Regions from separate parts of the Homo sapiens genome. Here regions 2, 3, 4 and 5 are each linked to region 1. The links come from fine-mapping of genetic effects on gene expression. A gene starts in region 1. Each other region holds a variant in brackets. All regions are shown on one strand. Distances are between the middles of the regions.

Region 1 (4,835 bases):
CCTCTCAATTAGCTGGGATGACAAGTGCTCACCACCACGCCCAGCTAATTTTTGTATTTTTAGTAGAGACGGGGTTTCTACTATGTTGGCCAGGCTGGTCTTGAACTCTTGACCTCAGATGATCCACCTGCCTCGGCCTCCCAAAGTGCTGGGATTACAGGCGTGAGCTACTGTGCCTGGCCAGAATAAGCTATCTTCTTAACACAGTGGTTACTTAGGTCTCTGTTTGGTCTTTTAGTCCTATTTTTTTCTGTCCCACGAATCTAGTGCGATATATTCCTCTTGGATTTGGTCACTATTTACACATAGATGGCAGGAGAACTCTATTTTTCTGGATCCTAATAGGCAAGGTCTGTGCTACCTGAGCTGACATGAAGAAGACAAGGTGGGGAGGTGACCAGGTTGTTTGCTCAGCTGTATAAGCCATGTTAGAATTGAATATACACTACAGATGACTTATAATGTACGTGCTCAAGAGTTGAGGGGGCTGAATTTACATATTTATCCTTTCGTTTTTTCAACATATCATCTCTCTCCCTCTCACTAGCACAAATGTTTGCTTAATAGATCGAAGCTAAGTTAAAAACTTTCACCATAAGTTTCCTAACCAGAAATAGTCAAGACAGTCTGTGGTAGGTCTCCCTCCCAACTGCAAATGGAGAAACTGCGGCAAAAGAATAAAATGTTAGAATTTCCTGCTTCAATATCTCTTGGTTTAGTAGTCACTGTATTCCTGATAAGAAAGAAACTTACTGCTTTCCCCTCTGGGGAATCGAATGTCAGAAATCTGAGGTCAGAATCTGTCTCCAAGGGCCGCTCCAGATCATAAGGTTCTCCATTCACTTGAGCAGCCACTGCAGTATCTGCCAGTGTTGAACTTCAGCAGTGGAAGGTGGGGATGAAGAAAAAGACAGGGTTACAAGGCACAAAAAGGAAAATATCACATGTTCTGATTCCTATATGAGAGTTTAAAAAGTTGATCTCACAGTGGTAGAGAATAGAGTGATAGTTACCAGAGGCTGGAAAGGATGGGGGAGGGGAGATGAAGAGGTTGGCTAATGGGTACAAAAATAGAGTTAGACAGAAGGAATATGCTCTAATGTTCCATAGCAGAGTTGGGTGAATACAGTTAATAATAATTTATTGTATATTTCAAAATAGCTAGAAGATTTGAAATAGTCCCAACACAAAGAAATGATAAATGTTTGGGGTAACAGATATCCTGAACACCCTGATTTGATCATTACATATTGTATGCATATATCAAAATATCACATATACCCATTCATATGTTCAATTATTATGTATCAATTATTAAAAAGTAAATTAATGATTTAAAACAGACAGGGTTACAATCCACAGTGGGGAGAAAGTTGCTCATCTCTCAGCAACTGTAAACTTGCAAAGGTGAAATGAGTTACCAGAGCAACAGAAGCTTTCATTTCTTTCCCCAATGAAAGGACAGAGACTCTGATGCAGAAACTAATACAGATAAAACAAATCTCAGGCCGGGTTTGGTGGCTCATGCCTGTAATCCCAGCACTTCGGGAGGCTGAGATGGAAGGATCGCTTGAGCCCAGGAGTTCAAGACTAGCCTGGGCAACATGGAGAGACCCCGTCTGTATAAAAGAACAACAACAAAAAACAAAAACAAAATCTTCAGGAAAGGCTATCTTAATGGGGACGGAACAGAAACAAGCAGACCAAGTTTTCTTCCCCTGCTCAAGTGAAGAGAAAGTAAAGGGGCAGAAGGATAATCCTGGTAGTTACAGGATGGGCCTGTTACCTGATCTGCCGGGCTAGTTGGTAGGGGGTTGTGTTCCATGCCACAGCATCAATTTTCTGGCCTCCAGGAAGTGATATCTTAATAGTCCGGGGTTCCTTCTGTGCCATGCTTGCTAATCTCTTTACCTGAGCAGCCCACAGCTCCTCAAAAAGGCCAAGCCGCTCTGCCAACCAGCGTGGAGGGGTCGACACAACTGCCTGGAGGGAAAGATATATTAGCAGGTAACACACGTCCCATCATTCTTTCTTAGAATTGCAGATGATGGCACTTTGGGATGGTTAAGTGGACTTCGTCCGAATTCCTACTTTTTAAGGGGATTGGGTGATACAAGACCCTAGGCTGGGGGTCCTTCGAGCTCAGAGTCCCCCAGACCGCTAACTCGAGAATTAGATAACGAGTTTAGATACGAGTCCTTTTCTGGGGACTCGGAGGACCAGGGAGAGGAGGAGTGGCGTGAGGCTGGGTTAACATAAAAATTTGGGGGCTTCGGCTGGGCTAAGTCTGATGCGGATCGGAGCTTTGGGGGTGCCTCACGCACCGTGTGTAGCCTGCAAGCCTGTAAACCTTGGAGCCGGAGACACCGCCACCTCTGATACAGGGCCATGTTCCTTCACACCAGTGCCTACATCCTCAAACAGATTATCGCCGCTTCTCCTCCACGTAATTCTTCATTGGCTTCTGGTCCAACAAAGTCCGTGTCTATTGGTTACTACAGCTGCCACTCTAGTCTGGCACCACCTCCAGGAACTCCGAAGAGGTACACCCTACACAGCACCAGCAGCGGTGTGAGTGGTTCCGGCTGACCGGAAGACCGAAAATGTAACACACCCTCGCTATTCCCCCAGACCCGTGGCGTTTCAGCTGAAACCCAAAAATAGCAATTAGGCGTCCTGTGGCTTTGAGGACAAGGGCAGGTGAACTTTTGAGGGCGAGAGTGGGAGAAAACCAGACAGGAAATGGTAGTAATTTCCCTTTAACTATACATTTTATTTTACGTGGTCCTTACAGCAAGTAGCAAAACTTAAGAGCATAGACTGGGGAACCAGACAGACCTAGTGTAAATTCTGGATCTGCCATTAACTATGTAATTTTGGGAAAATTATTAAACTTCTCATATTTATTTAATAGAGACCGGGGGGGGCGGGAGGGGGGGGCGGGTCTCACTATGTTGGCCAGGGTAGTCTCGAACTCCTGGCCTCAAGCAATCCCTCCCCTCCCCCCCACCAAACCGCCACCGCGCTCCGGCCTCCCAGAGTTCTGGAATTACAGGCATGAGCCGCCTTGCCTGACCTATTTAATTTCTCTAAGCCTCAATTTTCTCAACTATAAAATGAGAATAGTGTTGCTCCCAATTGTTGAGTTAAATTTTATGTAAATCGTCTAGTGTGGCCCATGGTTTTTTGGTAATGGGCAAAAGCAACAAGAAGCTATTATGATAAATGACTGTAACAGTTTTATTTTTTAATTTTGAGACAAGGTCTCACCGTTGCCCAGGCTGGAGTGCAGGGGTACAATCATGGCTCACTGCAGTCTCGACCTCCTGGGCTCAACTGACCACCTCAGCCTCTGGAGTAACCACTTTAAAGCTGGAGCAAAGATGGCCGCGCGCAGTGGCTCACGCTGTAATCCCAGCACTTTGGGAGGCCGAGGCAGGTGGATCACCTGAGGTCAGGAGTTCTAGACCAGCCTGGCCAACATGGTGAAACCCCGTCTCTACTAAAAATACAAAAATTAGCTGGGCGTGGTGGTGGGCGCCTGTAATCCCAGCTACTTGGGAGGCCGAGGCGGGTGGATCACCTGAGGTCAGGAGTTCTAGACCAGCCTGGCCAACATGGTGAAACCCCGTCTCTACTAAAAATACAAAAATTAGCTGGGCATGGTGGTGGGCGCCTGTAATCCCAGCTACTTGGGAGGCTGAGACAGGAGAATCGCTTGAACCCGGGAGGTGGAGGTTGCAGTGAGCCGAGATCACGCCATGCACTCCAGCCTGGGGGACAAGAGCGAGACTTCATCTCAAAACAAAACAAAAACAAAAAAGCTGGAATCAAGAATCTGCAGAGGTCAGTTTGAGTCCCTTTATACTCATGGTGCTTAATAGGGACTTTATAGACCTTTTAATCTTTTTTTTTTTTTTTTGAGATGGAGTTTCACTCTTGTTGCCCAGGCTGGAGTGCAGTGGCGTGATCTCGGCTTACCGCAACCTCCGCCTCCCCAGGTTCAAGCGCTTCTCCTGCCTCAGCCTCCCGAGTAGCTGGGATTACAGGCATGTGCCACCCCAGGCCCAGCTAATTTTGTATTTTTAGTAGAGACAGGGTTTCTCCATGTTGGTCAGGCTGGTCCCGAACTCCCAGCATCAGGTGATCCGCCTGCCTCAGCCTCCCAAAGTGCTGGGATTACAGGCGTGAGCCACCATGCCCGGCCGAGACCTTTTAATCTGACAGATGAGGAATTTAAGGTCAAACAGCAAGTGCTGATGGTGATTTCTGAATCCAAGCTTGGTTTTCTTTTACCACACCATGCTTTCTCTAGAAGAGTTTGCTCCCAGTATACTCCCCCATCACCTCAGAAAGAGGTGCCTGACTAGAATTTTAGCTCTCTGCTCCCTACATAAGCCCTTTGCCTCTAATTCCTATCCCAGCTCTCAACTTCCTTTATCCTTTCTCTTCCCTCTCCCTGATACATCTAGGACACAGGACTAGGTAAATTTCATCAAATTTACTCAGTAAATATGGGAACATGGTCAGATTTGTAGTAAAGTATGAAGGGAAACTGACTTGGGGGTAGCCATCAGGCTGTCAGTAATTCTCATTAGTCCCCTCACCTGGAGGTGGGGATGGTTAGAGTTGGTTCTGAAGTTTCAATGGTGATAGAATCAAGGGTTGTAGAGGAAGAGGTGTCAGAAAAAGCAGTTTAATCAAGGTTTCCGGAGAGACCAGGTTTCCCGGGCAGGGCAGTTGATCTGAGTCACAGGAGCCTCCATGGATCTTGGGTCCATCTTCTGGTAGACACCCTGAAATACAAAGAGAAAGAGACAAGAGTGTGGGAGAGG
Region 2 (4,835 bases), 190 kb after region 1:
TGTATTTTTTTTAGTAGAGACAGGGTTTCATCATGTTGGCCAGGCTGGTCTTGAACTCCTGACCTCAGATGATCCACCCGCCTCGGCCTCCCAAAGTGCTGAGCTTACAGGGGTGAGCCACCGCGCCTGGCCAAATTTATTTTTCTAACCACTCCTCTTCTTTCTTAAAAAGAAAAGAATATAATTCTTTTCTTTTTAAGCAATGTAAATTGCTTTTTTCCAAATCCTACTCCTACTTTGGTGTTTTAATCCCTGAAGAAAAGGTAATACTGTGCTTCTTAACCAGGGTAATTAACAGAATGCCAAAGGATACAAGTTTCTGGACAAATTTGATGCATCTGCCTGGAGGCACCAATTTTAACTCGAAGGAGTGGGGGTGTTACCCATAAAACAGATGCAATGGCAACGAATACGAAGTTCACCTTACATTTTAATTTAGGGAAGCTTCAAAGAAATTCCATGTTTGCTTATAGTAGCAGAACCCCTATAGTTCATTCACTCTCCTCTGCTGTTAACGACACTTCAGTAAAAAAGTTTGACAAACATTAAATAAGTGACAAAAAAGATAAAGGAACATTTATGTTCATTAAGTAGACATTTAATGAGAGCTTTGGATGTGCCAGACACTTTGGTAAATCCAAGAGATACACAAATGAAAAAGCATAGGTTTCTGTCCTTAAGGAGGCTACAAGCCTTTTTTTTTTTGAGACAGGGTCTCACTTTGTCACCCAGGCTGGAGTGCAGTGGCGCGATCTCGGCTCACTGCAACCTCCAGCTCCCAGGTTCAAGCGATTCTCCTGCCTCAGCCTCCCGAATAGCTGGGATTACAGGTATGCACCATCATACCCGGCTAATTTTTATATTTTTAGTAGAGACGGGGTTTTACCATGTTGGCCAGGCTGGTCTTGAACTCCTAACCTCAAATGATCCGCCCCCCTCAGCCTCCCAAAGTGCTGGGATTACAGGCATGAGTCACTGTGCCCAGCCAGGAGGCTACAAGTCTATTATAATAATTTTCAATCCTGGTGAAATCTCATGGTATGTTTTTTAAAATGCTGCCATCCAGGTTGCAACCCCTGGAGATTCTGATTCATCTCAGATTGGGCCCTGGCATTAGTTTTGTTTTCTTGATGGTTCGTTCCCTAGGTGATCCTAATAGGCAGCCAGGGTTGAAACCACAGGGTGTCACACTGACCACTCTCCGGCTCTCTAATATTAACACTTCGACCCAGGAAATAGGTTTGTGTAAAATGCCAGTCACCAACAAAAAGAGAACCATAAAAGTAGTATGTGGGCTGGGTGTGGTGGCTCACACCTGTAATCCCAGCACTTTGGGAGACAGAGGCGGGTGGATCACCTGAGGTCAGGAGTTCGAGACCAGCCTGGCCAACATGGTGAAACCCCGTCTCTACTAAAAATACCAAAACTAGCCAGGCGTGGTGGCAAGTGCCTGTAATCCCAGCTACACGGGGGGCTGAGGCAGGAGAATCACTTGAACCTGGGAGGCGGAGGTTGCAGTGAGCCGAGATCATGCCACTGCACTCCAGCTTGGGGGACAAGAGCGAGACATCGTCTCAAACAAACAAACAAACAAACAAACAAAAAACAGAAAAAAAAACAGGAAAAGCAAAAACTGAGTGTTGATTAAATTAAAAATATAGTGGCTGGACAAGGATTTTTAAAAGAGGCAGATAAAAAGGGGTATAGACAATCTTAGACAAAGAAATAAGAGTCTTCTCTCAAAAGATAAGAGCTGGCCTTATATTTTCTGCAAACCTGGTATCAGTGAAGAGGATCAGGAAGGAGATTAGAAATATTTTGTTTCTCAGATTCTGTTTCAAATTTTAGGTGTAAATGGGGATGCATTCCATATATGATATGGGGCATCACTGCAGTCTCTGCCTCCCAGGTTCAAGCGGCTCTTCTGCCTCAGCCTACGGAGTAGCTGGGATTACAGACCTGTGCCACCATGCATGGCTAATTTTTGTATTTTTAGTAAAGACGGGGTTTCGCCATGTTGGCCAGGCTAGTCTCGAACTCCTGGCCTCAAGTGATCCACCATTCTTAGCCTCCCAAATTGCTGAGAATACAAGACTGAGGCACTGCACCCAGCCGCTACTCTCTTGATACAACTGTAAGAAGTGGTTCAGCTGGGCATGGTGGCTCACGCCTGTAATCCCAGCACTTTGGGAGGCTGAGGTGGGCAGATCACGAGGTCAGGAGAT[C/T]GAGACCATTCTGGCTAACATGGTGAAACCCCGTCTCTACTAAAAATACAAAAAATTAGCCGGGGTAGTGGCATGCGCCTGTAGTCCCAGCTACTCGGGAGGCTGAGGCAGGAGAATCGCTTGAACTCGGGAGGCGGAGGTCACAGTGAGCAGAGATTGCGCCACTGCGCTCCAGCCTGGGCGACAGAGGGAGACTCCGTCTCAAAAAAAAAGTGGTTCAATAAATAATACTGTACCACAAATTTTGTTGTTTTTTGTCAAAGTAGCTAATTTTCTAAAAACAAAATTCTTGCTTTTGTGTTATCTATACTTTAGGAATAAGGGAACTAAAACTGAGCCTGTTGGAAATTTGTTTTACCATTAAGCAACAGCTATCCTTTGATCTTTCAATAACAAACATCTCAACAACCATGGCCAGAAGACCTATCTAAATCTACCAAAATAAATCATACAGAAGAAGATTTACAGGGAGAAGTCAGAAAAAAAGAGTGAAGTTACACGTAATACATGCCTTTTCCCAAATTCAACATTCATCTCCCTAGCTAACTCACTGCAGGGTCTGGATGTTACCTATAAAGACGTTCATTTTAGGCCAGGTGCAGTGGCTCAAGCCTGTAATCCCAGCACTTTGGGAGGCCAAGGCGGGTGGATCATGTGAGGTTGGGAGTTAGAGACCAGCCTGACTAACCTGGAGAAACCCCATCTCTAGTAAAAATACAAAATTAGCTGGGCTTGGTGGCGCATGCCTGTAATCCCAGCTACTCAGGAGGCTGAGGCAGGAGAAACGCTTGAACATGGGCGGCAGAGGTTGCGGTGAGCCGAGATGGCACCATTGCACTCCAGCTTGGGCAATAAGAGTGAAACTCTGTCTCAAAAAAAAAAAAGTTCATTTTGTACTTCCAAGATAGCAAAGTAGGGCCAGAGAAAGGTCATTAGACATAATATACTTCTCAGACATGCCACCAGAAGGTATGAAATAGGAGAGTTAGAAATGAGGAGAAACAGAGAAAAATGAAACAGGATACCTTACAACCTGGTACTTATCTTTACTCTCAGCATAGGTGACAATGTAGAGGGAACAGCTTCAGCCCAAGGATATAATTGTTATGCACATAGAATTAAGTGATGTGGCTGACCCCAGACCAGATTTTTTTTTTTGAGTCTTACTCTGTGGCCCAGACTGGAATGCAGTGGCACGATTCTGGCTCACTGCAGCCTCTATTTCCCAGGTTCAAGTGATTCTCCTGCCTCAGCCTCCCAAGTAGCTGAGATTACAGGCGCCTGCCACCACATATGGCTAATTTTGTATTTTTAGTAGAGACAGGGTTTCGCTATGTTGGCCAGGCTGGTATTGAACTCCTGACCTCAGGTGATCCACCCGCCTGAACCTCCCAAAGTGCTGGGATTACAGGCATGAGCCACCACGCCTGACCCTAAGACCAGATCCTTTTAAAAGACATAGAAACCATTCTGAGCCTGCAACTGCTTCTCATTTACACAGCTTCTGACAGCATTTTTTCTTTTTTTTTTTGTAGACAGAGTCTCGCTCTGTTGCCCAGGCTGGAGTGTAGTGGCACGCTCTCGGCTCACTGCAACCTCCTCCTCCCGGGTTCAAGCGATTCTCCTGTCTCAGCCTCCTCAGTAGCTGGGACTACAGGTGTGTGCCACCACGCCCGGCTAATCTTTTGTATTTTTAGTAGAGACGGGGTTTCACCGTGTTAGCCAGGATGGTCTCGATGTCCTGACCTCGTGATCCGCCCGCCTTGGCCTCCCAAAGTGCTGGGATTACAGGCGTGAGCCACCGCGCCCGGCTGACAGCATTTTTTTCCTCACTGTGGTCTTCTGCCATCCAGCCTTCCACACCTAGAACTCTCTGCTTTGCTAAGAACTAGGTTCCCTTTCCTTTGCCCTCTCAGTCCTCAAGAACCCTACCAATATTTAAACCCAATCAGATGAGGATTCTGGTTTTTTTTTTAAAGCGACACCTGCTGAAATGACAAGACAAGGATTCTAAATTGGAAAATGAACCACCATAAGTCTTTCCATTTCTAGTAAGACTAGTAATAATTATTAAAGAACATTGCACTAAAAAGATGTGCTTTAGGCTCCTCTCCACCATTCAATAACTGCATAACCCAATAAAGATAATCTGATCTTCCAAGGCTTCCCTTACTTGTGAAATAAAGCTACCACATTAAAGGCCTTAATGCAGCCCATGCAATATCTTTCCTACATTTTTTTTAAGAGACATGGTCTCACTATGCTTCCTAGGTTAGAGTGGAGTGGTTATTCACAGGCACAACAAGAGTGCACTCACACTACAGTCTTGAACTCCTGGGTTCAAGCAATCCTCTTGCCTCAGCCTCTGGAGCAGCTAGCACTACAGGAGCCCCTTCCTTACAATTCTTTGATAATTCAACTCAACAAGCGTTTGTTTCTCCAAATGTTACTTCACATTGGGGAAAGAAAATGACGCGTGAGTCATACCAGAAAGTCAAAATCCACACAACTGGTGAGAAGGGAAGGTTAAGAACTTTTTGCTTGAGAATTCAGTGGTAAAGTACTACTAGGGCTGGGCCGGATGCAGTGGCTCATGCCTGTAATCCCAGC
Region 3 (4,835 bases), 34 kb before region 1:
TCAGCCCACTACACTGTCCAGCAGAAATATAATTCCAGTCACCAATGTAAGCCACACATGTAATTTTTTTTTTTTTTTTTTTGACGGAGTCTCGCTCTGTTACCCAGGCTGGAGTGCAGTGGCATGATCTTGGCTCACTACAACCTCTGCCTCCCGGGTTCACGCCATTCTCCTGCCTCAGCCTCCCGAGTAGCTGGGACTACAGGCATGCACACCATGCATGGCTAATTTTTGTATTTTTAGTAGAGACAGGGTTTCACCATGTTGGTCAGGCTGGTCTCGAACTCCTGACCTCAGGTGATCTTCCTGCCTTTGGCCTCCCAAAGTGCTAGGATTACAGGCATGAGCCACCGCGCCTGGTCGCCACATATGTAATTTAAAAAAATTTTAGTAACATTAAAAAAGTAAAATGAGACAGATGAAATTAATTTTAATAATATATGCCAGGCGCAGTGGCTCACACCTGTAATCCCAGCACTTTGGGAGGCTGCGGTGGGCGGATCACTTGAGGTCAGGAGTTTGAGACCAGCCTGGTCAACAATGCAAAACCCCATCTCTACTAACAATATAAAAATTAAGTTAGCCGGGCATGGTGGTGCATGCCTGTAGTCCCAGCTACTCAGGAGGCTGAGGCAGGAGAATCGCTTGAACCTGGGAGGCAGAGGTTGCAGTGAGCCAAAATCATGCCACTGCACTCCATCCAGCCTGGGTGACAGAGCAAGACTCTGTCTCAAAAAAAAAAAAAAAAAATATATATATATATATATATATATATATATATATACACACACACACACACATATATATGTATATATATATGTATATATATGTATATATATATATACGTATATATATATGTATATATACGTATATATATATATAGAGAGAGAGAGAGAGAGAGTTCATTAATCCAGTATACCTCCAAGTTTTCATGTAAACAACAGGAAAAATATTGATATCTTGCATCCTTTATTGTAGAAATCCATTGTGTATTTTACACTTACAGTACACTGCAATTCAGACCAATCACATTTCAAGTGCTCAGTAGTCACAAGTGGCTGGTGGCTACTGTGTTGGACAGTGCTGCCAACTTCTTGTTTTTTTTTTTTTTTTGACAGAGTCTCACTTTGCTGCCCAGGCTGGAGTGCAGTGGCGCCATCTTGGCTCATGGCAACCACCCCCTCCTGGGTTCAAGCGATTCTCCTGCCTCAGCCTCCTGAGTAGCTGGGACTACAGGCATGCACCGCTATGCCCAGCTACTTTTTGTATTTTTAGTAGAGACAGGGTTTCACCACGTTGCCCAGGCTGGTCTTGAACTCCTGACCTTGGGCGATCCTCCTGCCTTGGCCTCCCAAAGTGCTGGGATTACAGGCGTGAGCCACCACTCCCGGCCAACCACTACCAACTTCTAAGCTGGAAAGTCACTGGAATGACTGTTCAGAAAAGGATTACAACATGGCTTTTCTTTCTTTCTTTTTTTTTTTTTTTTGAGACAGTCTCACTCTGTCACCTAGGCTGGAGTGCAGTGGCGTAATCTCGGCTCACTGCAACCTCCATCTCCTGGGTGCACGCGATTCTCCTGCTTCCACCTCCAGAGTAGCTGGGATTACAGGCACAGGCCACCACACCCAGCTAATTTTTTTGTATTTTTAGTAGAGACGGGGTTTCACCATGTTGGCCAGGCTGATCTCGAACTCCTGCCCTCAGGTGATCTGCCCACCTTGGACTCCCAAAGTGCTGGGATTACGGGAGTGGGCCACCACACCTGGGTGGCTTTTCCATTTTTAAGACTTACTTAAAGAATCTGTATATACTGTTCCTACAATTTGTGTCCAGTCATTAAACAATAGCCAAGACTTTCCTGAAGAACAAATTGGGAGGGAGTGCTTGGCCTATAAATATCAAACTTTAATATAAAGCTACCAACTGTGCAGTATTGTGCAAGGAGGAACAGATAGTAGAATGGAAGGTCCATAAATAGACCCATGCAAATATGGACACTTGATTTATGACAAACATGGCCTGCAGAGGGGTCATAACAGTCTTTTCAACACATGGTGCTGGAATAACTGAATCTCCAAACGGAATAATATGAATCATGACCCTCTACCTCCCAGTAAATGTCAAAATCAACTCCAGGTGGTTACCAATCTTAAATGAGCAAATAAAACAATAACACTTTCAGAAGATAGGCAAGGGACTTGAGCAGGCATCTCACAGAAGATATCCAAATGATCAATTGACATATCACAAGGTGTTTAACCTCATTTATAAACACAGAAAT[G/C]CAAGTTAAACCCATACTGAGGTACCATTGCACCACAAACTCACCAGAATGGCTAACCACATTGACAACCTCAAGAATTGGAGAGGGTGTAGAACAAGTGGAACTCTCATACACTGCCTGTGGGAAGAAAAATTAGTACAACCACTTTGGCATTCTCTAGTTAAGCCAAATAAACTCTGACCCAGCCATTTAACTCCTAGCTGTATACCTGACAGAAATTCATGCAATATCTACCATTTTTATAATAGCATATTTGAAATAGCTTAAAACTGGAAACAATTCATGTATCTATCAACAGTAGAATGGATAAATTGGCATATTTCTGAAATAGAATTCCATATGAAAATGAGGCCGGGCGTGGTGGCTCACGCCTGTAATCCCAGCACTTTGAGAGGCTGAGACAGGCAGATCACCTGAGGTCGGGAGTTCGAGACCAGCTTGACCAACACGGAGAAACCCTGTCTCTGCTAAAAATACAGAATTAGCCAGGCGTATTGGCAGGCGCCTGTAATCCCAACTACATGGGAGGCTGAAGCAGGAGAATCCCAGGAGGCGGAGGTTGCAGTGAGCTGAGATCGCGCTGAGCCAAGATTGCACCACTGCACTCTAGCCTGGGCAACAAGAGCAAAACCCTGTCTCAAAAAAAAAAAAAAAAAAAAAAAAAAAGAAAAGAAAAGAAAAGAAAATGAATGAACTACAGGTATATAAAATAACATGAATGCATATTTAAAAAGTCAGACATGCACAAAAAATATGTTGTAATTATTCTGATTCCATTCTTATGAAGTTCAAAAATTGGCAAAATGAAATAATTGTGCATTATTCACAATAGTTGAAAGATGAAAACGACCCAAATGTCCATCAACAGATGAATGGATAAGCAAAATGTGGCATATACACACATTGTATGTATACACATACAATGGAATATGATTCAGCCATAAAAGGGAATGAAGTTCTGATACATGCTGTAACATGGATGAGCCTTGAAAACATTATGCTAAGTGAAATAAGCCAGATGCAAAAGGACAAATATTATAGGCACATTATATGAGGTACCCAGAATAGGCAAATTCATAAAGACAGTATATTAGGAGTTATCAGGGGCTAAAGGGAGGGGGGATGCCAGTTATTGCTTAATGGTTACAGAGCTTCTGTTTGGGGTGATGGAAAAGTTTTGGAATAGATAGTGGTGACGGTTGTACAATATTGTGAATATAATTAATGCCACTGAGTTGTACACTTAAAAATGGTTAAAATGGCAAATTTTGTCATACATTTGTTTATTTATTTATTTTTGAGACGGAGTTTCACTTTTTGTTGCCCAGGCTGGAATGCAATGGTGTGATCTTGGCTCATGACAACCTCCACCTCCCGGATTCAAGTGATTCTCCTGCCTCAGCCTCCTGAATAGCTGGGAATACAGGCATGCACCACCACACCCGGCTAATTTTGTATTTTTAGTAGAGATGAGGTTTCTCCATGGTCAGGCTGGTCTCGAACTCCCGACCTCAGGTGATCCGTCTGCCTCGGCCTCCCAAAGTGCTGGGATTACAGGCATGAGCCACTGCGCCAGCCTATTTTATTATTATTTTTTGAGACAGAGTTTCGCTCTTGTTGCCCAGGCACAATCTCGGCTCACTCCAACTTCTGCCTCCCAGGTTCAAGCGATTCTCCTGATTCTCCTGCCTCAGCCTCCCGAGTAGCTGGGATTACAGGCGCCCACCACCATGCCCGGCTAATTTTTTTGTATTTTCAGTAGAGACGGGGTTTCACCATCTTGGCCAGGCTGGTCTCGAACTCCTGACCTTATGATCCATCCACCTCAGCCTCCCAAAGTGCTGGGATTACAGGCGTGAGCCACCGTGCCTGGCCCTAATTTTGTATTTTTAGTAGAGATGGGGTTTCTCCATGTTGGTCAGGCTGGTCTCAAACGCCCCACCTCAGGTGATCTGCCCACCTCGGTCTCCCAAAGTGTTGGGATTACAGGCATGAGCCACCGCCCTTACATTTATTTTACCATACTTTTTAAAAATTAATAATGTAATATACCAAAACCCATTGAATTGTACATTTTACATGGGTGAATTAATGGTATGCGAATTATATCCAATAAAGCTGTTTACAAAATCCAAAATGACTGCTTTTAGGGTTCATTTTTAGGGGTAAACTAGTTTTAACAAGCGATTGAGTGATAACTCTAAATATCAAGGGAGCAGGATTCCTTCATGGGCACGGGAGGAGGGCGTCATCAGGAAGCAGCACTGTGGGGGCCTCTGGGATGCTTTGGCTTGACTTAGGCATTTGTTGCAGGAGGTTCATTTTATAACCATCCATTGAGCTATAATACATTTATGTTTTGCATACTTTTATTATTAATTTGTTTGTTTGTTGAGACAGAGTTTCACTCTTGTCGCCCAGGCTGGAGTGCAATGGCATGATCTCAGCTCACTGCAACCTCTGCCTCCTGGGTTCAAGTGATTCTCCTGCCTCAGCCTCCCAAATAGCTGGGACTACAGAGGCACGCCACCACACCCAGCTAATTTTGTAT
Region 4 (4,835 bases), 210 kb after region 1:
AGGAGATCCTGAAGTCCTCTTAGTTCAGAAAAAGTAATGACTCATCACAAAAGTCTGCCTCAGCATCTCCTAAACTTCTTTAAGACTGAATAAGAAGATTTTTCTAAATGTGATCCCTCTTCTTTCATTTTACTTGTTATTTTTTGAGACAGTCTCACTGTGTTGCCCAGTGGCAACAGTACAGTGGCCAGATCATGGCTCACTGCAGCCTCCAATTCTTGGGCTTAAGGGATCCTTCCACCCCATCCCCCCCAATAGCTGGGACTGCAGGCCTGTGCTACCACACCCAACTAATTTTTATTTTTAATTTTTTTAACGTCTTGTAGAGGAGTTCTTATTTATTTATTTTTAATTTTTTTGTAGAGACAAGGTCTGTTGCTCAGCCTGGACTTAAACTATGTTGCTCAGCCTGGTCTGGAACTCCTGGGCTCAAGCGATCCTCCCACGTCACCATCCCAAAGTGCTGGGATTATAGGGATGAGCCTAAATCTCTTCCTTCAGTGGCTGATAATTGACCAGGCTGGAAACACTAACTAGAGATACTGGTAAGAATTACTTCGGTTTAGTGTGGGAAGTTAAAAAATATTATTTCACAGACTCCCCCAAAGCCAGTGGCTGCACTCTTACCTTCTACATGAAATACATCCCCACCTGAACAAAGGCACACGACAGGAGGAGGGGAATAGGACTTCGCAAACTGGACACGGCATCGTTCAGATCTGGACTCTGCTAAAATACCGACATCCCCACACAGTAGGCTGGTGTCATTCCTCCTACCACTTCTCTGTCCCCCTCCAGAAAGACTGCCACCTCTTTACAACAACCTCTGTCTTCCTTTCCTTTGGGCTTAGAGAAAGATCCATCCTTCCCCATCACTGTAAGGAGTCCTTCTGTGCCTTTCAGCTATCCCTGACCATACCAGGGAGGCCAATTCAATTCAATTGTTTCTATTTTTTATCTATTATGTGCATTATACTATACTAGTCACTGTGCTAGGTGCTATAGAAAGGGACATAAATATGAATAAGACAAGATTCCTGTCCTCAAGGAATTTACAATCTAAAGAGAGTCTACTCTATATTTTATTTATTTGTTTGTTTATTTATTATTATTTTTATATCCACCAGGCTGGAATGCAGTGGTGCAATCTCAGCTCGCTGTAACCTCTACCTCCAGGGTTCAAACAGTTCTCCTGCCTGCCTCCCAAGTAGCTGAGATTACAGGCACCCGCCACCATGCCTGGCTAATTTTTGTATTTTTAGTAGAGACACAGTTTTGCCATGTTGGCCAGGCTGGTCTCAAACTCCTGACCTCAGGTGATCCGCCCACCTCAGCTCCCAAAGTGCTGGGATTACAGGCGTGAGCCACTGCGCCCAGCCTACTGTATACTTCAAAAAGAATTAACTGCCCTTATTGTCAATCTTTCACTTCCATTCTTACTGGCTTCTTTCATCTGTGCTCAACTATATGCAGGCTGCTCTTTGGTCCTATTCCCCTTTCCAGCCGTTGCTTCTCTTTTTCATTACCAGATTTTTTAGATGGTTGGTCTGTACTCACCTCCCTTTCCTCATAATGTACTCACTCTTTAACTCCACAAAAATCTAGCTTTTCTCCAAGCACTCAGTTAAAACTACTTTCTTGAGAGTTACAAGTGACCTCCTCCTCCTTGGCCTCTTGGTAGCTTTTGATGGATTATATTAAACTTTCTCTTCTAGACTCTATAATACAAACTTGGCTATCTGCCTACTTCTCCAGTCAAATCCTTCTCCATTCCATTCATTAATTTCTCTTCCTCCCACTCACTACAGGCACAGTCACTGGCCTTCTGAGCTTGTGTGTACTGGCTCTGTTGAGCTCATTTACTTTCATATCTGTGACTTTGCACTTAGAACTCTAGCCCTGATCTAGTTCAGTGACCTTTAGGACACCCTCATAGGGCTGTCACCATAAACTCAGCTTGGCCATTACCAAATTAATAACTTCTGTCCTAAACCACTCTGGCCTCCCATAGTTCCCACTTTGGTCAACCATTTTCCCAGACATCCATGTTTAAAACCCATGAGTTATTTTAACTCACTCCTCATTTATACTTCATATAAAATTATCACTCAAGCAAGGTATTTTCTTCATAATATTTATTTTTCTCCTCTCCATTCATAATGCCAGAGTACAGATTGTTTCTGGAACAACGCAAATCTCATGAGTTGCTTTCCACTAAATTATTTACATCCTGCATACAACCTGA[A/T]GAGTGGTTTTTCTTTTTCTTTTTTTGAGATGGAGTTTCACTCTTGTTTCCCAGGCTGGAGTGCAATAGCGCGATTTCGGCTCACTGCAACCTCCGCCTCCCAGGTTCAAGCGATTCTCCTGCCTCAGCCTCCCAGGTAGCTGGGATTACAGGCATGTGCCACCACACCCAGCTAATTCTGTATTTTTACTATAGACAGGGTTTCTCCATGTTGGTCAGGCTGGTCTCGAACTCCCGACTTCAGGTGATCAGCTCACTTCAGCCTCCCAAAGTGCTGAGATTACAGTCGTGAGCCACCACACCTGGCCGGTTTTTCTAAAATATCACTTTTCATCGTGTTTTTACCATAATGAAGAACTTACTAGGCTCCTTGTTGATTATGAGTCCAGACTTCAGCCTGACACCTGAGACTCTCTGAAATTTGCCCCTATGTTGCCACATGTGAAATTACTAAGCAAGTATTAGGAGCCTTGTAAATTTTATATTTTTCTTAATTCCCACTGTTCCCTTCCATATACCCTCTCCTTCAATCATACCCTATTTGCTAAACATATTATGCTTGTTCTATTCCCCCCTCCTGTGCAGCTCTTTCACTCTTTTTTTTTTTTTTTTTTTTTTTTTAGTATAGAGTCTCACTCTGTCGCCCAGGCTGGAGTAGAGTGGCGTGATCTCGGCTCACTGCAACCTCTGCCTCCCGGGTTCAAGTGATTCTCATGCCTCAGCTTCCCAAGTAGCTGGGATTACAGGCACGCACCACCACGCCTGGCTAACTTTTGTATTTTTAGTAGAGATGGGGTTTCCACCATGTTGGCCATTGAACTAGCCTTGAACTGCTGACCTCAAGTGATCCGACCACCTTGGCCTCCCCAAAGTGCTGGGATTACAGGCATAAGCCGCCATACCTGGCCTCTTTCACTCTTGGAATAACTATTCTTCCTCCTAATTGCTTCTGTCCTTCCATAACTACCCACCAATCAAAAGCTCATCTATTCTTCAGGGTGTATCTCAAGCACAAATGCCTCTTGAAAGCTTTTCAGACAACTCTAGCCTGTACTAATCTCTCTTCTTACATTGGCTAAAGCACTGCCAGTATCTTCTGCTTTCAAATTTATATATAATTTAACATCATAACATACCTTTTCATTTTGTTCTAAGTGTTTCGTAAACTTGAATTTTATAAATCCTTGAGGACAGTAACATAGATTTCTTTTTTATCAGCATCAGTTACCTTAGCAGCCTTAGGCATAGATTACATACCTATTGAATACTACTGAACTGAAATTTAACTGTACCATATCTTCCCAGTGTTCTGTAAACAGGGTTAGTATTAAATCTTAGTGAAACATGGCCAAGTTGAGATGAATACCTGCAATGAAGTACTAATTATTTGGTTCTCCCATCCACCAAAGCCTGGTATTCCAGCCCTCTATGTATTCCACGTCACTAGGGATGTCCTGTCTCCCCCCAGCCCCCAATCCCCAATCAACTCACAGGTTCCGTTGTTACTGGTTTCACAGTTACAGGCTTCGGATGGTCTGCACGTGCTGTTTCAAGACTAATGGTAGTCTCTATTGCTTCTGTTATGTCCTTATCCAACCTGTTCTACCCTCAGTAGGATTTGGGAAACACAGAGTTATCAGTTTTTCCATCCAACATCTTCATAGATTCTCTACTTAAAGTTCTCCCCTTCACCACCTCCACCCAGCCCAAAGACTTAAGCTCAGGGATTCCCCCCTACCCTATGCTTGCATAGATTTGTACCCATCTCATTCAAAAGTCCCTTGATGCCCCTCCTCAGTGTCTTAGCAAACTTACTGAGGACAATTTATAAAGTTCTGGCTTTTTTCTCCTCCCCAGATAGGTTAACAAATCTGTTTTGGGCCTACTACTTAGTTTCTCCTCATCAAACTCATTTTTATTCTTGTTAATCAGATACATTTCAACATTGCCCAGTTTCTTTTCTTTTCTTTTTTCTTTTTTTTTTGTAGATGAAGTCTGGATCTGTCACCCAGGCTGGAGTGCAGTGGAACGATCTTGGCTCACTGCGTCCTCCATCTCCCGGATTCAAGTGATTCTCCTACCTCAGCCTTCTGAGTAGCTGGGATTATAGGCATATGCTACCATGTCCAACTAATGTTTTTGTATTTTTAGTAGAGACGGGGTTTCACCATTTTGGCCAGGCTGGTCTCAAACTCTTGACCTCAAATGATCCACTCGCCTTGGCCTCCCAAAGTGCTGGGATTATAGGCATGAGCCACTGCGCCCGGCCAGTTTCTTTTTAATTGTTACTTATCCTAACCCTTTTAGATGTAGAGTTCACTCACCAGCCTGTCCTCTGACTCAAATATGGAGTAATCAATGGTGAAATCTGCACTAAAGTCATCTGCAGAGGAGAAAGAAAATCAGTAATAATTAAAGAAAAATGTAACTCTAGATCTGGAAATGAAAAGGGAAGAAATTACTCAGAATAGTTTAACTTAAGTTGTAACATTTATTGGTATAATCCAATTTTATTTAACTAATGTTAAAAATGACTGTGAATGTGTATGCATTTATATTTTCAATGTAGGTATCTAAAATAATTTACAAA
Region 5 (4,835 bases), 80 kb after region 1:
GCCTAGAAATCCTAAACAATCTGGCACTGTGTTATCTTCCTGACCTAATTTCTTCATCACCACTGATTCCATTGTAGCCACAGAGGCCACCTTGCTGTCTTTACAAGGCCTCCAACACACCTGGGTGAGTCCTTGCTTCACGGTCTGTTAAGCTCACTGTTCTGGAACTTTCTTCCCCCGTTTTTCTCATGGCTCGTTCAATCACCACCTTTAAATCTTGCTCAAATGTTCCTTTCTCAGTGAATATGTTCCTGACTACCTTACTTAAAACTGCAACATCAGGCCAGGTGCGGTAGCTCACGCCTATAATCCCAGCACTTTGGGAGGCCAAGATGGGTGGATCACCTGAGGTCAGGAGTTCAAGACCAGCTTGACCAACATGGTGAAACCCCCTCTCTACTAAAAATACAAAAATTAGCCGGGTGTGGTGGCATGCGTCTGTAATCCCAGCTGCTGAGGAGGCTGAGGCTGAATCGCTTGAACCCAGAGGCGGAGGTTACAGTGAGCCAAGATTGCGCCACTGCACTTCAGCCTGGGTGAAAGAGCAAGACTCCGACTCAAAAAAAAAAAAAAAAAAAGAATTGCAACATCAAGCCAACAACACTCTTACCACCCTTCTTTGCTTTATTCTCCCAAATAACACATAATTTTCCAATATACTATACAATTTATTTTTTGCCTATCTCCCCCACGAGAATATAGGCTCATAAGGGAAAGGATTTTTGTCAGTTTTATTTACTGCTGAATTCTCAGCACCTAGAATAGTGCTTAACACTTAGTTGGCGTTCAGTAACTACTTCTTGAATAAATAAATTAGGAAAAAAAAAGAGAAGGAAGACAAGAAAAGGGGAAAAATAGAGTAGTCCTCTATTCAGTTTGGCTAACAATCCCCTAAGACTTCTCTGTAAATGCACAGCATTAGGTAGGGGCTAGGTACAATGAGGTATTCTAGGGGCTGTTGCAGAAGTTAATCTAGATATAGTCAGTGTTCTCACAACATCAATTCCTCAACAATCTACAAGCTAAGCATTCAGCTTTAATTATTATGCAGAAGGGGAAAGGAATTAACAATAGGAAACTGGAAGGTTACTGATTTAAGTCTAAGTACCTACAAAATAAAACTGTTAACTTGGTAGGAGACGGGTTAGATAATTTTTAACTTGAATTATTTACATTTTATGTCTACCTTGCCTTGTTCCAACAATGGGCTAAGACAGCTGATACAGTGTTTTCAATCCATGTAGTCTTTACAGAAAACAAGCATTATGGTATAATGGAAAGGGCATCAGCACGAGAGTCCAAAGATCTGAGATGTAACCCCTGAAAAAGATTCATTTTCATTAGCTTAGGTCTGTCTTCATTTGCAAAACAGGCTGTAGAAAGGAAAAACAAAAAGAAGAAAAAGCCACATGGACAAAAATGTTATTTATAGTTGTAGAAAAACTAGAAGCAACCTAAAGAATAGTAACAGGGGAATAGTTAGGTAAAGGTGCATCCATATTACGTGGATAATAAGTACATGTCTATAAATAACATGAAGATGCTTGCATGAGAGTTAGTGAAAACACAGGAAAGAAAAATGTACATATACCATTATGTAAAACACTATTTAAATGTATATGTAAAGGTACATCCATATTATATGGATGATAAGTACATGTCTGTAAATAACATGAAGATGCTTGCATGAGAGTTCGTGAAAACACAGGAAAGAAAAATGTACATATACCATTATGTAAATTATGTAAATACACTATTTAAATGTATAGGCGGGCCAGGCGCGGTGGCTCATGCCTATAATCCCAGCACTTTGGGAGGCCGAGGCGGATAGATCACCTGAGGTCAGGAGTTTGAGCCCAGCATGACCAACATGGTGAAACTAAAAATACAAAAATTAGCTGGCCGTGGTGGCGGGTACCTGCAATCCCAGATACTCGGGAGGCTGAGGCAGGAGAATCGCTTGAACCTGGGAGGCAGGGGTTGCAGTGAACCAAGATTGCGCCATTGCACTCCAGCCTGGACGACAGAGTGAGACTCTGTCTCCAAAAAAAAAAAAAAAAAAAAAAA[T/AT]CATATGAATATTTTAAAATAAATGTTATTTTCTAAACTTTCTATGTTACAATTATAATACCTTTATATAAAAAATAAAAGCATAGGCCAGGTGTGGTGGCTCACACCCATAATCCCAACATTTTGGGAGGTCAAGATGTAAGGATCGGTTGAGCCCGGGGGGTCAAGGCTGCAGTGAGCCATAGTTGTGCTACTATACTCCAGGGTGAATGACAGGGCAAGGTCCTGTCTCCACACACACAAAAAAACCCATATAAAATAACTAGTTTAGATTAGATCGTCCATAACATACCCTCTGGCTTCAATATCCTATGATTAAATAAATATTTAACTGTAAGGACACTCAGTACAAATAATGGCAGTGTCACTTGAATATTTAAATAGAAGAAAACAACATCTTTTTTCAAAGAATCTACATCTTCTCTTTAAAAAGATAAATCTCCCAACTTCCTTAAAATCACTTAGTTGCTTTGTTGAGGGTTAACAAGAAAAAATTATCTGAAAAAGTATCAAGGTAGCAGAAAGAACACTGAACTACGTAGAAAATCTGAGTGCCATACTCCTCCACCACTATGTGAGGATGAGTACATTATCATTCAAACTGTTACATTTTGAGAGTGAAAGGGCATCACATCAGGTCAGGTGGTCACATACGTTAGGCTGAGCTAAGACGCAACTAGCCTAAGTCTATGTAAAATGAATGTACTCAAAAAAGTTTCTAAGGCCCCTTTTGGATCTAAATGTTATAATTTTATTTCTTTTTTAAGAACTGAAAACACTGAACAAATGGTGCTGTATGTATAGAAGTCAGAGATGCTTTGTTTACTAAATAATGTATTTTTTAAAGGAGTACCTTAATTTCTTGCTTAGGGATTCAGACTTACAATTAAGTTTATCTGGGGAGATACTAATGAATGAACTTAAAATGTACCTTAAACTCCTCTGATGAGATGTTCTTGTTGGGACTGAGAAACAATGAGAACCCTAGCACTGTATGTGCCATACCCAATAACCAAAAGTATTATGTGAATACCATATGCTCTACAGAATGAAGTACAAAGAATATACTAATACAGAAATTAGAGACATCAAGAGATGTACATTACTAGAGGTCATACCATATTCGAACTTACAAGAATTTACTGGCTAGGCATGGTGGCTCACGCCTGTAATCCCAACACTTTGAGAGGCCGAGGCGGGCGGATCACCTGAGGTCAGGAGTTCGAGACCAGCCTGATCAACATGGAGAAACCCTGTCTCTTACTAAAAATACAAAATTAGCCGGGCGTGGTAGCACATGCTTGTAATCCCAGCTACTCGGGAAGTTGAGCCAGGAGAATCACTTGAACCCAGCAGACGGAGGTTGCAATGAGCCGAGATCACGCCATTGCACTCCAGTCTGGGCAACAAAAGCAAAACTCCATCTCAAAAAGAAAAAAAGAATTTACTTGTAAGTACTTGGCAGGGCGTGGTGGCGCATTCCTGTAATACCAGCACTTTTGGAGGCCTAGGCAGGAGGATCATTTGAGGTCAGGAGTTCAAGACTAGCTTCACTAACATGGTGAAACCCCATCTATAGTAAAAATTAGCCAGGCATGGTGGCAAATGCCTGTAATCTCAGCTACTCAAGAGGCTGAGGCAGGAGAATCACCTGAACCTGGGAGACAGAGGCTCCAGTGAGCTGAGATTGTGCCACTGCACTCTAGCCTGGGCAACAGAGAGAGACTCTTGTCTCAAAAAAATTTTTTTACCTGTAAGTACTAAGCCAGAGTGTGAGAGAGAAAACAATTAACAAGAACCCTAAACAAATATTCAGGGGTAAAGGCAATTACAGTAGTCCCTCCTTAACATGGGGGTATATGTTCTAAGACCCCTAGTGGATTCCTGAAACCAGACAGTACAGAACCTGACTGCTGTCAACGGAAACACATATCTGTTCATATATTCCACCAAAAATTTAATGCCCTTTTCATCTTAACCAAGCAGTTAATCAAGCACCGTGGCCATAACTTTTGCAGTATGAGGTGCAACAGCAAAACTAGCACGAATTTCTTTTTCCTTCTTCATCATTTCACAGATAGGAGATTCATTCTTATCACAGATCTTAGCAACTTCAGCATATGATTCATTGTCTTATTAAGAACTTTAACCTTTTCACTTAAAGGAAGCACTTAACGGCTTTTCTTTGGCATATCCAAATTAAAAGCATCACTATTCTTGCGCTTTGGGACCGTTATTAAGTAAACTAAGGATTACTTGAACACAAACACTGCAATACCCTGGCGGTCAATATAACAGGGGCACTAATGGGTGGGAAGCGTCAACAGCATGGATACAAAGGACAAAGAGAGGATTCCTGTCCCAGGCAAGATGGCATGAGATTTCATTATACTACTCAGAATGGTGCACAATTTAAAACTTATGAACTGTTTATTTCTACAATTTTCCATTTAATATTTTAGGCATGGTTAACCAGGAAAGTGAAACTGTAATTATCAGAAAGACATTTGAGGCCATAGAGAAATACTCACTGATGAAGAACCAGAAGAAATATTATCTTCATAAAGATGATGAGAGAGAGAGAAACCAGGAAGTTTGACTCTCCCTAAATCGGCTTCATGTTCCAAGCATCAAAACATTCAGCTGATTTACTCTCTTAATATGATTCAGCCTACGGAATTATATGCTACCAAATATAGCACAAATCATGCATATATATATTTCTGTACTAGGCTATTTACCAAAAAAAAATAAAAAATTTTGTCATT

Direction of the effects. Positions count from the first base shown, and alleles are read on the strand shown. Sizes are in standard deviations (SD) of each study's normalised expression. Not every link is listed here.
As copies of C replace T in region 2, the expression in tibial nerve of the gene that starts at base 2,422 in region 1 goes down (large effect, 1.0 SD a copy in GTEx).
For the expression in sun-exposed skin of the gene that starts at base 2,422 in region 1, C is the low allele of the variant in region 3 and G is the other (small effect, 0.31 SD a copy in GTEx).
As copies of AT replace T in region 5, the expression in cultured neurons of the gene that starts at base 2,422 in region 1 goes up (large effect, 1.3 SD a copy in Aygun 2021).

Evidence for each region. PIP is the estimated chance that this variant, and not a neighbour inherited with it, causes the effect.
Region 2: its variant is the best candidate, but not a certain one, in a credible set for the expression of TARS2 in tibial nerve (GTEx, PIP 0.57).
Region 3: its variant is the best candidate, but not a certain one, in a credible set for the expression of TARS2 in sun-exposed skin (GTEx, PIP 0.69).
Region 4: its variant is the best candidate, but not a certain one, in a credible set for the expression of TARS2 in monocytes (TOPMed, PIP 0.86).
Region 5: its variant is the best candidate, but not a certain one, in a credible set for the expression of TARS2 in cultured neurons (Aygun 2021, PIP 0.61).

The regions. Positions count from the first base shown.
Region 1 is chr1:150,485,006-150,489,840 of GRCh38, reverse strand. TARS2 (threonyl-tRNA synthetase 2, mitochondrial) reads right to left here and starts at 2,422. Exons shown (of 18, transcript NM_025150.5): 1 at 2,325-2,422; 2 at 1,787-1,983; 3 at 754-877. The coding sequence starts at 2,390. LOC124904416 (a long non-coding RNA gene) reads right to left here. Exons shown (of 2, transcript XR_007066600.1): 2 at 4,487-4,796. RefSeq lists enhancers at 2,328-2,597, 2,091-2,597.
Region 2 is chr1:150,296,213-150,301,047 of GRCh38, reverse strand. All of the region lies in intron 2 of MRPS21 (mitochondrial ribosomal protein S21), which reads right to left. Among named protein-coding and RNA genes, the nearest start is that of MRPS21, 4.8 kb to the right of the region's middle. RefSeq lists an enhancer at 3,449-4,006. The variant C/T (reference allele first, on the strand shown) is at 2,226.
Region 3 is chr1:150,518,899-150,523,733 of GRCh38, reverse strand. FALEC (focally amplified lncRNA regulator of ECM1) reads right to left here. Exons shown (of 6, transcript NR_186305.1): 3 at 2,329-2,401. Among named protein-coding and RNA genes, the nearest start is that of FALEC, 5.6 kb to the right of the region's middle. The variant G/C (reference allele first, on the strand shown) is at 2,285.
Region 4 is chr1:150,275,534-150,280,368 of GRCh38, reverse strand. C1orf54 (chromosome 1 open reading frame 54) reads right to left here. Exons shown (of 6, transcript NM_024579.4): 3 at 4,570-4,628; 4 at 3,737-3,847; 5 at 628-726. The coding sequence ends at 631. All of the region lies in intron 1 of LOC124904414, which reads left to right. Among named protein-coding and RNA genes, the nearest start is that of CIART, 4.6 kb to the left of the region's middle. RefSeq lists an enhancer at 1-71. The variant A/T (reference allele first, on the strand shown) is at 2,246.
Region 5 is chr1:150,405,391-150,410,225 of GRCh38, reverse strand. All of the region lies in intron 1 of RPRD2 (regulation of nuclear pre-mRNA domain containing 2), which reads right to left. Among named protein-coding and RNA genes, the nearest start is that of RPRD2, 44 kb to the right of the region's middle. The variant T/AT (reference allele first, on the strand shown) is at 2,068.